Regions from separate parts of the Homo sapiens genome. Here all the other regions are reported to be linked to region 2. Evidence: microRNA targets listed by miRTarBase, many of them from high-throughput screens and not tested one by one. Region 2 holds a microRNA gene; each other region holds the end of a gene's coding sequence.
Evidence for each region. The annotated mature microRNA hsa-miR-1304-3p reads UCUCACUGUAGCCUCGAACCCC and lies in region 2 at 1,830-1,851, opposite strand. An mRNA with a match to its seed (bases 2 to 7 or 8) in the 3' UTR can be bound and repressed. Matches are read on the target gene's strand: a 7mer-m8 pairs with bases 2 to 8, a 7mer-A1 pairs with bases 2 to 7 and ends in A, and an 8mer does both.

Region 1: miRTarBase lists RREB1 as a target of hsa-miR-1304-3p. Seed matches in the 3' UTR shown: 7mer-A1 at 639-645 and 7mer-m8 at 1,428-1,434.
Region 3: miRTarBase lists ZNF561 as a target of hsa-miR-1304-3p. Seed matches in the 3' UTR shown: 7mer-m8 at 2,740-2,746.
Region 4: the mRNA of ENSA is a reported target of hsa-miR-1304-3p. Seed matches in the 3' UTR shown: 7mer-m8 at 2,172-2,178.

Annotation. Positions count from the first base shown.
Region 1 is chr6:7,248,422-7,251,551 of GRCh38, forward strand. RREB1 (ras responsive element binding protein 1) reads left to right here. Exons shown (of 13, transcript NM_001003699.4): 13 at 90-3,130. The coding sequence ends at 547. Among named protein-coding and RNA genes, the nearest start is that of SSR1, 63 kb to the right of the region's middle.
Region 2 is chr11:93,731,862-93,734,993 of GRCh38, forward strand. MIR1304 (microRNA 1304) reads right to left here and starts at 1,903; the gene lies at 1,813-1,903. It overlaps SNORA1 (small nucleolar RNA, H/ACA box 1), which reads right to left and starts at 272; the gene lies at 143-272. It overlaps SNORA8 (small nucleolar RNA, H/ACA box 8), which reads right to left and starts at 638; the gene lies at 500-638. SNORD5 (small nucleolar RNA, C/D box 5) reads right to left here and starts at 1,439; the gene lies at 1,367-1,439. It also overlaps SNORA18 and a transcript of TAF1D not described here.
Region 3 is chr19:9,607,568-9,610,688 of GRCh38, reverse strand. It overlaps ZNF561 (zinc finger protein 561), which reads left to right. Exons shown (of 6, transcript NM_152289.3): 6 at 1-3,121. The coding sequence ends at 489. Among named protein-coding and RNA genes, the nearest start is that of ZNF561, 12 kb to the left of the region's middle.
Region 4 is chr1:150,620,062-150,623,193 of GRCh38, forward strand. ENSA (endosulfine alpha) reads right to left here. Exons shown (of 4, transcript NM_004436.4): 4 at 2,064-2,798. The coding sequence ends at 2,783. Among named protein-coding and RNA genes, the nearest start is that of ENSA, 8.0 kb to the right of the region's middle. RefSeq lists a silencer at 2,592-2,886.

The DNA of each region.
Region 1 (3,130 bases), not on the chromosome of region 2:
CTGGGAGCCTCATTCTTCCTGTGCAGAGCAGGGTGCAGTGGGTACTGGTGCCTTTTGGTTAATGGAAATTCTTTCTTCCATTGTTCCAGGGGAAAGGCCATACAAATGTCAGACCTGCGAGCGAACCTTCACCTTGAAGCACAGCCTGGTTCGCCACCAGCGGATCCACCAGAAAGCCAGGCATGCCAAACACCACGGGAAGGACAGCGACAAGGAAGAGCGGGGTGAGGAGGACAGCGAGAATGAGTCCACCCACAGCGGCAACAACGCCGTCTCAGAGAACGAGGCTGAGCTGGCTCCCAATGCCAGCAACCACATGGCTGTCACCCGGAGCCGGAAGGAGGGCTTGGCCAGTGCCACCAAGGACTGCAGCCACAGGGAGGAGAAGGTCACGGCAGGGTGGCCGTCTGAGCCTGGCCAGGGTGACCTTAACCCAGAGAGCCCGGCGGCCCTGGGGCAGGACCTGCTGGAGCCGCGCAGCAAGAGGCCTGCCCACCCAATCCTGGCCACAGCTGATGGCGCCTCCCAGCTCGTGGGGATGGAGTGACAGCCTCAGTCCCCCTCAGCACAGACAAAAGCCAGCAGAGCAAAGCGTCTATACTTCATGGGGTTTCCTCAGTGCCCTTTGGCTGTTGAGGAGTGAGAGAGAGAGAGAGAGAGAGAGAGAGAGAGAGAGAGAGAGACAAGCAGGAGCGTGGCTGCTCGCTCAGTGCCATAGCCTTACCGCAGCCTGCGCGGGAGGCCACAGCCCGTGCCGATTCCAGTGCCTTAACTACTTACCGGATCCCTCCATATTATCATGGGTGTTGTATTTTTCCAAAATGACTTCTTAAACAAAACAAATATTATAATGAATTGTCTGGAGAGGACCTCTTCATTTGAGCATTAGCGTTATTTTGTATTGGTGTGTGTGAGCTTGTTCTTGTGAATCTGTGATAGCACCGTTTGTTCTGTGAGCTGGAAACAGAAGGAAAAAACATACCCTTGGGTACCCATAGCCAATAACTGGAAGAAAATGATGTGAATTTCATGTAAATGACCAGAGGAAAGATGGATAAGATGATAATTTCTTAAATAGACATTTTCCTTTTTTCTTTGTGCTTCATGGTGGAGCTGTCATCTGGTCCTTGGTATTACAGGATGTGGTTGATGAAGGTTTCCAATATGGTTTCAGGCCAAAACCAGGGAAGATTCTAGCTTCAGCCTCATGTCCATTTCCAGTCTGTCAGCATTAGACATGGTCACTGTTCAAGTTTCAAGACATCCATTCTTAACTATAGAGAAGAGTTACTCCCCTGGCGTCTTAACCTATGGAAAACATGCACGGATAGGATATATTTGATTGCCTCCTCTTCCCTTTCAGTATATGTATTATTAATATTATTATTATTATTATTATTATTAGTTCATCAGTTTGCTGTTCTCTGCAGTGAGCAGAATCAAATGGGCAATATTTGTCCTGGGAGACCTGTGCCGCACCCAGGTCCCCGTGTTAACGTGTGCCTGCGGTTGTGGTTGGCACCCTCGGGTGGTAGCTCTTCTACTGTAATGAGACAAGCCTTTCTTCTGTCACTGCAGAATTTAGAAGGGGCCGTGAGCAGTCTTCCCAAGCATGGTCCAGGAGCAGCTCAGAGAGGGTGGAGTGAGGATGCATGCATCCAGGGAACAGGCATCAAGAAGCCAGGGCCGTGCCTGGAGCACTGCAGAGATGACTTTGGAGAAAGCAAAGCAGTGACCCAGTGACCAGGCACATTACTCGTGAGCGAGGTATTCCCAGTCTTCCTGCTAAGCCTAATCCAAGCCTTACCCAGCTGTGCTACTGTCATTTGCAAAGCAAGGAAATACTACTACTGGTAATAAAACTACACATGCAAGATGTCAGATAAGAAATAGGTTTATATTTACCTTCCTGCGATGTGGGGTTGGTGCTTGAAGATAAATGTGCTGTTTCTAGTTTCTTAAATAGCCCACACCCCTGGATGCAAAAAGGCAGGGTTATTTTTACCCATGAGCATCCTGTGCAGGCAATAGACTTCCCTCACTGTCTCCGCCTGCAGGGAGGAGAATGTACCCCACTGCACCTGAGCTCCTGGTCCCTCAGCCAAGACCTCAGGGGTCCCCAGCCAGCCTGCTGCTGGGGACCCCTGTGCTTGCTGCAGTGTATGGAGCCTCTTGCCTTCCCCTGGGGAGGCACCCCTGTACCCCAGCTTCCTTCCCCTGGCCTTTTCTGGCCCCAGTGCTCCTCCTTTACATAGACTTGTTCACACAGAAACGTGCACGCCCCCTTTTCTCCGCCACTTCACCAGTTTCTGAAATCCAACCTCCCAGACTTCACAGGAAGATAGATATTCTTGAGATAATGAAAAGTGATATCTTCGCATACGAAAGGAAAAAAGGTTGAGGTATATATGATTTTTAACTGTATTAGGGGTGTATGAACCAGTTTAAAAACGAGGTTTTATTTACTGTAGAGATGAATGCAAATCAGAACCAATGATCCCTTGGCCTACTTAGTTAAAACCAGTTCATACATCCCTTAGGGTTTTTATTATTATTATTATTATTATTACAGTTGTTATTGTTGTTTTTGTTGTTATTATTATTTGGGGTTTCTTGTGTTTTTTCTTTGCGACTCTCCACACTAAACTTGCAATATTGTGGGGAGAAGCTGTGACTAAACTCTACGCTGCGGTGAGATGTAGCAGTAATCAGCTCCCAGCGACGTGTGTAGCTGGGGCTGCCGCTCGCAATAATCACTATTGATTTAAAGCTTTACTTAGCCTTGATCTGTACCCTCGTAGTCAATAAGGTCTTGCCACATTTTATTAGTGAGGTGGAGAAACGTATTATTTGTTTGTTGTTTTTGCCCTTCCCCCACCCCCCAATATTAAACTGTGAAATTTGTGATTTGTTTAAACTCTGGGTGAATCATAGCTTAGTTTGCATGTCCAGCTAATTTGTTTCTATACATTTTGTTTGATTCTCTTTCTCCTTCTCTCAGGGCTTTTACAAAAAAATATATATATATGGATCTTCTGAAAAGTTTTTTGAGGTGCAAGTTTTTTCTCTTTTTTTTTTTTTTTTTTTTTTCTCATTGATTAATGGACATGATGCTGAGATTCAATCACTA
Region 2 (3,132 bases):
TATACCACATTACAATGTTTCAGTCAATATACAGCACATAAAAAAAGTGGTCCTATAAGAGCTGAAAATTCCTTATTAAATGTTATTTCTAATATTGAAAAGTCAACATTTTTCTCCTACATTTTTACTCATAAACATAGCAAAATGTTACAGGTCTCATTGTCACCACTGCAATATGCATACTGTGATGGAAGCATAACCTGTCTCAATTTAGCCACATTAACTATTTTTGGACACCATGATCAACAGTGCCCATTCTCTAGAATGAGGCATTGTAAAAGTCTTTAAAGCTTAGTAGTGTATTTGTACGAAGTTCTTGTTATGCTGGCAGTGCTACTGATAGAGGGAAACAAGCAGAATCAATAGAAACAGAGAATCTTACCTTTTTACTGTAGGTGGTGGGGATCTACCTGGTTCTCAATTTGACACCCTGGAAAAAAAAGCATTGCTTACTATTTTAGAGTATATCAAACTGAACACTCTGAGAAACCTACACAAATACTGTATCAGTAGAAATACCAGGTTTAACAAGCACAAAGCCAAGAAAACCAACGATGCCAGATACTGAATTTCTATAGCACTGACCTTTGAACACCCTAGCAGGTGTAAACTGCTGAGTGCAGATACCATGCAGTGCAATTATGACTGAACTGTACAACTCGTATTCCCAAATTTGCAATATTGCTGAGAAATGCTTTCACAAACCTCTCAAATTCCTTTAACAAGTACAATAATTTGAGCTTTTTTCCTAATTGTCACTGTAATAAGGAAGCTACATTAACTACATTTTAAGCTACAACTCTAGTCTTTGCCTAATCTTTGCCCAGTCTCTCTATAAAACTTAAAGATGGAATATATACATGTAACTTAACAGATCAGACAACAAACGTCAAGCTCATTGTTGCTCAAACTGCCAGTTACACAAAATTCTTTTTATGTAATTCATATCCCTATTGATTCAACATATCCACACAGGTTTACGTGACTTTAGGATGAAATATGTGTAACTGCCAGTTGAATAATGATGCAAAGAACACAGGTAGTTTCGTTTGGTAGGTATAGACATGCAGTCTCTTCATTTTCCTTCTCTATACAAATATATACATTGTAATATTTTTGCCAGTATCTTACTAATTCTGTGTTATACCTGAAATACTGGGATGGTGTAATTTCTATTTTTCATCTTTTGAGTCCTTGATTATTATAAGTTAAATATTTTACTTACCTCTCAACATGAATGAGTTCAAATCACATTCATTCCTATAGAAAGTACCAATTAAAGATTTAGAAAGGATACATTTCCAGTTATTAAAACTAAAACCCAAGTATAAATTTAAGATCCAGTTTATTATACAGCCATATCCAGCTCTGTCAGAATTAAGTTTTAGTTCATGCCCGTTATCATTCAGCAGTTGAACAGTTAAATTCATCATCTGAACTGTAATCATTATTTCCCAAAAGATTATACTGTCACCAATTAAAACTTACCTAAGCGATCACTCAAGAATGGTACAGATGTGTGGAGTATGCCAATACCTAAGGTAAAAAAGTAGATTATCTGGTTTTTCATAACGTTTAGCAACCGTCTTTTTCAAACTTTTAGCAACTGTCTTGTAATTCCTTCCCACAGATCTAACAATAGTCCTGTGAGTAAAGTAAAACCACAGAGTTACTCTATGAGGCGTTTCCAACGATGTGCAGGCTACAGGAAAAGCCCCATCGGGATAGACCTCAACCACTATTTACAAGGTTTTGATTTTTTTTTAAAGACACAGGATCTGCCATGTCTTTTAAAAATCGTGTGATTCTTGCTGAATCACTTGAGCCCAGGGGTTCGAGGCTACAGTGAGATGTGGCAGGATCACATCTCACTGTAGCCTCAAACCGCTGGGCTCAAGTGTTTCTCCTGCCTTAGCCTCCAGAGTAGCTGGGGACCACAGGCACCACTGTGTCCAGCTAGTATTTATACACATAAATAACAAAGTCTAACACTCCATAGGAAAGAAATTATGAGCAGAAACTGCAATATGCTCTTACAATATTGCCAACTGCAGAAACTTCCTACTACGTTAATCACAAAAACAATAATTTCACAATCACGTTGTGCTTAGGAGCCAGAGGAATGATAAATAAAAAGTAACATCAAGTAGCTCCTTTACATGAACCAAAGGAAAAAGATTTAAACTTAAGATTTAAGTTTAAAGTCTAACTGTTGTTATGAACTTCAGTATTGCAACAGAGGATGTTGTTTTCCCAATTCGAAGATTTCAGCAAATTTTAATTCTTGGCTCAAAATTAATTGTCATCCATTATAAAATACAGGAATATAATGTGCCTGTAAGTTACGACTTTGGCATTATATAACTTTTAATCAAACTCTACATCATTCAAATTTATGAATTCTTATGACCTGTGTAATCATCTTTTATTATACTATATTTTGCATTAAACCATAAAATCCTCTGCCTCATTTTAGATTGTGCATTAATTCAAAATAATGCTGTAGGCTTCAAGTAGGAAATCCAAAGTTCTGATTATTGCTACAAACTAACAAATTCAGGACCCTCTAATGCTTGCAACTAAAATGAATCTGACACATCACTATAAAATGTGTGAATCTAGGATTCTTCTTTTCAGAAATCAGTATAAATGGGAATTAAAAGCATGGTAGAAATGTCCCTGAATAAAATGAAACTTGCTCTGACAACATACTGTTTCCTACACATAAACAAATATGATGTGAAAACTCAAATTGAGACATACCTTTAACTCCAGACACCATGTTCTCAAGATAAAAGCCTTTAAAACAAAAAGCCATTGTGTATATCATCAACATGAAATTGGAATGCAAAATTAATACTGCTGAGGATTTCCCTCATATCCCATGCTGTTTATCTATTCTACAGGCCTGGAATCAACCTTTTTTTCTTAAGAGACAGGGTCTGTCTTTGTTACTCAGGCTGGAGTACAGTGGTGCCATCAAAGCTCAGTGCAGCCTCCAACTCTGCCTCAGCCTCCCCCCTTTCTGAGTAACTCCAACTACAGGCACATGCCCCAGTACCCAGCTAATTTTTAAATTTTTGTGGAGATGTGTTTCTTACTTTCTTGCCTAGGCTGGTCTTGAACTCCTGG
Region 3 (3,121 bases), not on the chromosome of region 2:
ACTGAACATGTAAGAACTCACACTGGAATAAAACCCTATGAATGTAAGGAATGTGGCCAAGCCTTTGCTCAGTACTCGGGCCTTTCTATACACATACGAAGTCACAGTGGAAAGAAACCCTATCAGTGTAAGGAATGTGGGAAAGCCTTCACTACATCCACAAGTCTTATTCAGCATACAAGAATTCACACAGGAGAGAAGCCTTATGAATGTGTTGAATGTGGGAAGACCTTCATTACTTCTTCCCGTCGTAGTAAACATTTGAAAACTCATAGTGGAGAAAAGCCCTTTGTATGCAAGATATGTGGGAAAGCATTTCTATATTCCTCACGCCTTAATGTTCACCTGCGAACTCATACCGGAGAGAAACCCTTCGTATGTAAAGAATGTGGGAAAGCATTTGCTGTTTCCTCACGCCTAAGTAGACATGAAAGAATTCACACTGGGGAGAAACCCTATGAATGCAAGGATATGAGTGTTACCATTTAGCCCATCGGTTGCCATCTTTAATTATTGGCAATGACACCAAAGATTATCAGATTTGTCCTAAATGCCTTTTGGAGGTTGTAATGACTCATGGATTGGCCTTAGATACCATCCTGAGGGTCTGAAATTAAACCTACAGGTTCTGAATACAACATCATGGTTGCCTGAGTCTGGGCATCTGTGAAGAAGGGTCATGGATGGTGAGGTCAGTACTGCAGGCTGCCTCACCTTGGTGATTAGATTCCTAAGATCATAGCATTAACAAGTTGTGTATGAGATAAATCATGCAGATTGACCCCAGCCCCTGTTGGTTAGTGGCTGCCAGTGTGGCACATTTATGTCAAAATTTACCAGAAGCCAAGATGATGTAGGACCCCAAAGGTGGGTTGTTAAGAGATGCTCCTCCAAGGGTCTCTTCTGATCCCACGGATCCTGCAGAGCGTGTCAGGAATGAAACCATCCATAACTGCCAGTGCCCTTTCACAGCTGATTATTTCTGTGTCCCCTTGTAAAATCTAAGAAGTGTGACAGCCTTGCCTGTTCTGCCTTGTATGTCTATTTTAGATGGCACAATGTAAGTGGCAATGTCTCTTCTAGTATAATCCAGTCTCTCTTCTCACTTCTGTCAAGGTGGCTGATATAGTCCATGAATCCCACTCATGATCTCTTTATCAGATGATCGTTCAGCCACACTTTGAGGATTCTCTTCAGTACAAGTTTTCTAATTTTTGCATTATGGATAGGCTGAGAATTTTCCAAATCTCCAAGTTCTGGTTCCTTTTTCCTTAACAATTTTTTCTGCAATTCAGGTCTCCTTTTGCATTTTTGCTGAGACCAGCTGGGTCATGGAGACCCTGACCCAGCAGCTCTAGAGGAATTAAGACAAAGACACAGAAATAGAGTGCAGAGTGGGAATCGGGGCTCACAGCCTTCAGAGCTGAGAGCCTTGAACAGAGTTTGACCCACATATTTATTGACAGTAAGCCTGTGATAAACATTATTTCTATAGATTATAGATTAGCTAAAAGTATTCCTTACAAGAAAGAAAGGGACAGGCTCTGGCTTGTTATCTGCAACAGGAACATGTCCTTAAGGCACAAATCACTCATGGTATTGTTTGTGGTTTAGGAATGCCTGAGCAGTTTTCCAGTTTTCCACCGTGGGTGGGCCAGGTGTTCCTTGCCCTCATTCGGGTAAACCAGCAACCTCCAGCATGGGTGTCATAGCCATCACGAGCATGTCACAGTGCCGCAGAGATTTTGTTTATGGGCAGTTTCTCATGGCCTGTTTATGTCCAAATTTGGGGGGCCTGTTCTGAGCACATTTTCCTGTAAGCACTCAGGAAGAATGAAGCTTCCTGTGTCCTTTAACACTTTAAGTACAGATCTTAGTGATACATAACCAGTTTTATCTCTCTCAAGCTCTACCTTCCGCAAAGTGCTAGAATACAGTTCTGCCAAGTTCTTCACTACTTCGTATCAAGGGTTGTATTTTCTTTATTTCCCAATAGCATGTTCCTCATTCCCCAATGACACCTCACCAGGATCACCCTTACCAACCTTACTTCCAGCTTGCACATCAGAATTTTTCCAGCCTCATTTGTCAGTTTCAAATCTGCTTCACATTTTTAGTTTTTTTGTTTGTTTGTTTTTAATCTGCCTTAATGAGCTCAGGCCACTATCACAAAATACCACAGACCAAATGGCTTACAAATTTGTTAATTTTAAATAAATGAGGTTAAAAACAAATTTATATTCTCACATTTCTCGAGGCTGGAAGTCTGAGATCAGAGTGCCAGCATGGTCAACTTCTGGCGAGAGCTCTCTTCCTGGTATGTAAATGCCCACTTCCTCATGTCTTCACAGGAAGGAAACCAACAAATAGGTCTCTCTCTCCTCTCTCCTTTCTCCTCTCTCCTCTCTCCTCTTTCTCTCTCTCTCCCCACCATCTCTCTCCTTCCCCTCCCTCCCCCTCCCTCCCCCTACCCATCTCTTGACATCATTTCACGATACTTCTAAAGAGCCTATTTTCAGGCCGGGCGCGGTGGCTCACACCTGTAATCCCAGCACTTTGGGAGGCCGAGGTGGGCGGATCACGAGGTCAGGAGATCGAGACTGTCCTAGTTAACACGGTGAAACCCTGTCTCTACTACAAATACAAAAAATTAGCCTGGCGTGGTGGCGGGTACCTGCAGTCCCAGCTACTCGGGAGGCTGAGGCAGGAGAATGGCATGAACCTGGGAGGCACAGGTTGCAGTGAGCCGAGATCGCAGCCACTGCATTCCAGCCTGGACAACAGAGCGAGACTCTGTCTCAAAAACAAAACTAAAAAACCCTATTTTCACATACAGTCACATTGGGATTTGGAGCTTCAACATATGAATTTTCAGGGTTATCATTCAGTCCAAAGTACTTAATATGATTCTTTTCCGTTTCCACATAGACAATCACATAATCTGTAAATAATGACTCTTACTTTTCCACTTTAGTCGTTAGGTTATACCTATATATATATTTTCTTGCTTTACTGGACTAATTTCAACCTCCAGCACACCACCAATGAATAGCAGTAATACCAGCATAATTGTCTGCAGTTCTGCTGAGATACGTGCTCTATTTTATTGGCTTGGCTGTAG
Region 4 (3,132 bases), not on the chromosome of region 2:
AGTTATTTTTCTTTGCCTGTCTTTGATATGCCCAGCCCACACCAGCTTAAAATAAAAGCTGTTGGACAGTAACGGTGACTTCATCCCTGCCACCCTGTATATTAGATGGCTCAGCTTAGTGGCTTGTCAGCACAATCAGGTTGGAGGAGTGGAAGAACCTTTGATTCAACTCTTTGGGATAAAGACTTTAGAATACATCTAGCTAAAATAATGAGCAGGAATAACTATTAGAAGCATTGCAGAATCAGTTTGCTTTGCTTGCCTAGCCCTACAGTATGGGAGTGAAGGAGATGGACTGTCAAGTTTTAAAATGGGATACATCCTGCCAAGTGTGCAGTGGTGAAGAACTAAAAGGAAAAAAAAAAGGCTAAGGAGTAACATGAAATACAGATAGCCCCAAACATTTTTGGCACCCCAGGCTTCTTAAGGCCACAAATTAAAATTGAGGACCAGGGAAGCCAGGAATAGTGGGAAGAAATAATATAAAAGCCTAAGATACTAACTCAAGCTCTTCAGCTAACTAGCTTTTCTACTTTACAAGTAACTTATCTCTATACCTTAATTTCCTCACTTGTATTAAAATGAAATTGCACTAACTGCTGGGTGTAGTGGTTCACACCTGTAATCCCTGCACTTTGGGAGGCTGAGGTGGAAAGACTGCTTGAGGCCAGGAGTTCAGGAGCAGCCTACACAACAAAACGAGATCCTCTCTACAAAAGAAAGGATGAAAATATATTCTCAGCCAGGCGCAGTGGCTTATGCCTGTAATCCCAGCACTTTGGGAGGCTGAGATGGGAAGAGTGCTTAAGCCTGTGTTCTGAGACTCACCTGGACAACATGGTGAATCCTCATCTCTACAAAAAATAATTAGCCAGGTGTGGTGGTGTGTGCTTGTAGTCCCAGCTACTTGGGAGGCTGAGATGGGAAGATTACTTGAGCCCAGGAGGTTGAGGCTACAGTGAGTGTTTGCACCCTGCACTCCATTCTGGGTGACTGAGCAAGATCCTGCCTCTAAAAAAAAAAAAAAAAAGAAAGAAAGAAAGAAATTGAATGATCCCACATTCAGCCTCATAGACCTCACCTCATTCCCCAGCTGGCAAACACAAACCAGGGATAACATACTCAGGAGGAAATCATGGGATGGCTCACTAACCCCACCACAATAAACACCATTAACTTGTGTCTCTAGTTTAAATTTGTACTTGTTTTATTTTATTCATTTATTTTTTTTAGATGGAGTCTCGCTCTGTCGCCCAGGCTGGAGTGCAATGGCACAATCTCGGCTCACTGCAAACTCTGCCTCCTGGGTTCAAGCGATTCTCCTACCTCAGCCTCCCAAGTAAGTGGGATTATAGGCATGTGCCGCCACGCCCGGCTAATTTTTGTATTTTTAGTAGAGATGGGGTTTCACCATGTTGGCTAGGCTGGTCTCAAACTCCTGACCTCAAGTGATCCACCCACCTTGGCCTCCCAAAGTGCTGGAATTATAGGCGTGAGCCACCGTACACCCGCTGGAGTTTTTTCTCCTTTGGTAACCTTTCTTTTGTACGTTACATTCACAGGCAGCTTTTAACTTCTTTCAGTAGCAGGTTTCCAGCAATGCAGATTGGCACATCATGAGGAAAGAAATCACTCTGCCTCCTGCTGGCCACCAGCAGAAAGACTTGAGTTTCTTTTGGCTTATTACAAAGAAATAATATATTTCTTTTGGTTTGTCACATTTCTCCCTCACAAACATGGGAACTTGAAAAGGAATGGAAGACAGAGGGAAAAGGAGACTGGGCCTCCTTTTCTGCTAAACCTGGACTAGGCTTAGGTGTCAAGAAACCATTTAGATCAAATATCTTAAATGCCTCATTTTGTGAGCCACAAACTGAGGTTGATGCACCTTCTACATTGGTTACAGAAACAAAGGGATGGGCAAGGTTTATGCCAACATTCCTGCTCCCTTTCCTAAGTGATGGTATTGGGGAACTCAGCCGCATCTCACATTAACAATGTCTTCAGTATTGTTTTCTTCCCCCTCCCAAACCCCAATAAAACACACCAACTGCTTCAGAATATTTCTGGGTTGGGTTTTTTCATGGGTTTTTGTTTTGTTTATTTCGAATACTGAAAAAGTCCTTTGGGCTCTGTGGGGTTCCCCACGCTCACGGCTCCTTTCTCCCACACTCACTGCCCTTCTTCCCACAGCAAATCTATTTCAAGGACAGTACTTTTTAAAATGATTAATGTTGAGTTCTCAACTAGCTCTGCAGAACTAGAGGAGCTGTTTGCATCTGTCTGTGCGGATGGAGTTTCTTTTATCTGACACCAGGTCTCCAACCACACTGAAACAAGGCATTTATCTACAGAGCTCAACTAGAACCCCTTTTCATTAGGCTACTCCACTTCCTTCCCCTCATACCTACCCCACATCAGCCACGTGGTTAAGAAGGATAGTCAGGAATGTTTTTACCAACTCCAAGCCCTAATTCATACTCCTCCATATCTCCCACCCCACCCTTTCAACCCCACCCCCACCCCCAGAATTTCATTGATATTTCTCCCAACTGTTATTTGGAAAAAAGGTAAAACAAAAAAGGTTCAAGGTCTTGGTGCTCAGCCCAAGGGGCTCCATGTGCTGGGACACCAACAGGAAAGGGCTTCTGCCTCTCCAGCCCACACCCGAGCCACCTCCTGACCCCTGGCTGCAAAAGCAGGAAGGGGCAGGAGCCAGCACAGGACCCGGGTGGGGCAGGGAGGGGAAGCGTCTCAGGATCTGGCAGAGCCCCGGGCAGCATCATTCAACTTGGCCACTGCGGACGAACACAGAAGAAAAAAAAAAAAAACAACACTGTCAAGTAATAGGGGAAAAAAACCCTGAACTCCAACCCAGTCTCTACCCCATGATTCCTCCACATTTAACAACCATTAGGCTACCTGGCATGTCTCAATCCTATCCATAAGGGAGTTGCAAAAAAAATCAAAAAATAGAATTTCAGTCTTTTCCTATCCACGAAACAACGTTATCTGCCTTTCTGGGATATCCATGGATAACAAACATAGAAAAATAATTCTTTAGATAAGATCAAAATAACTGGAGGTTTCCAGGTGGGTAAGCTGCCTGGCTCAGAGCAGGCTGTTTCAGAG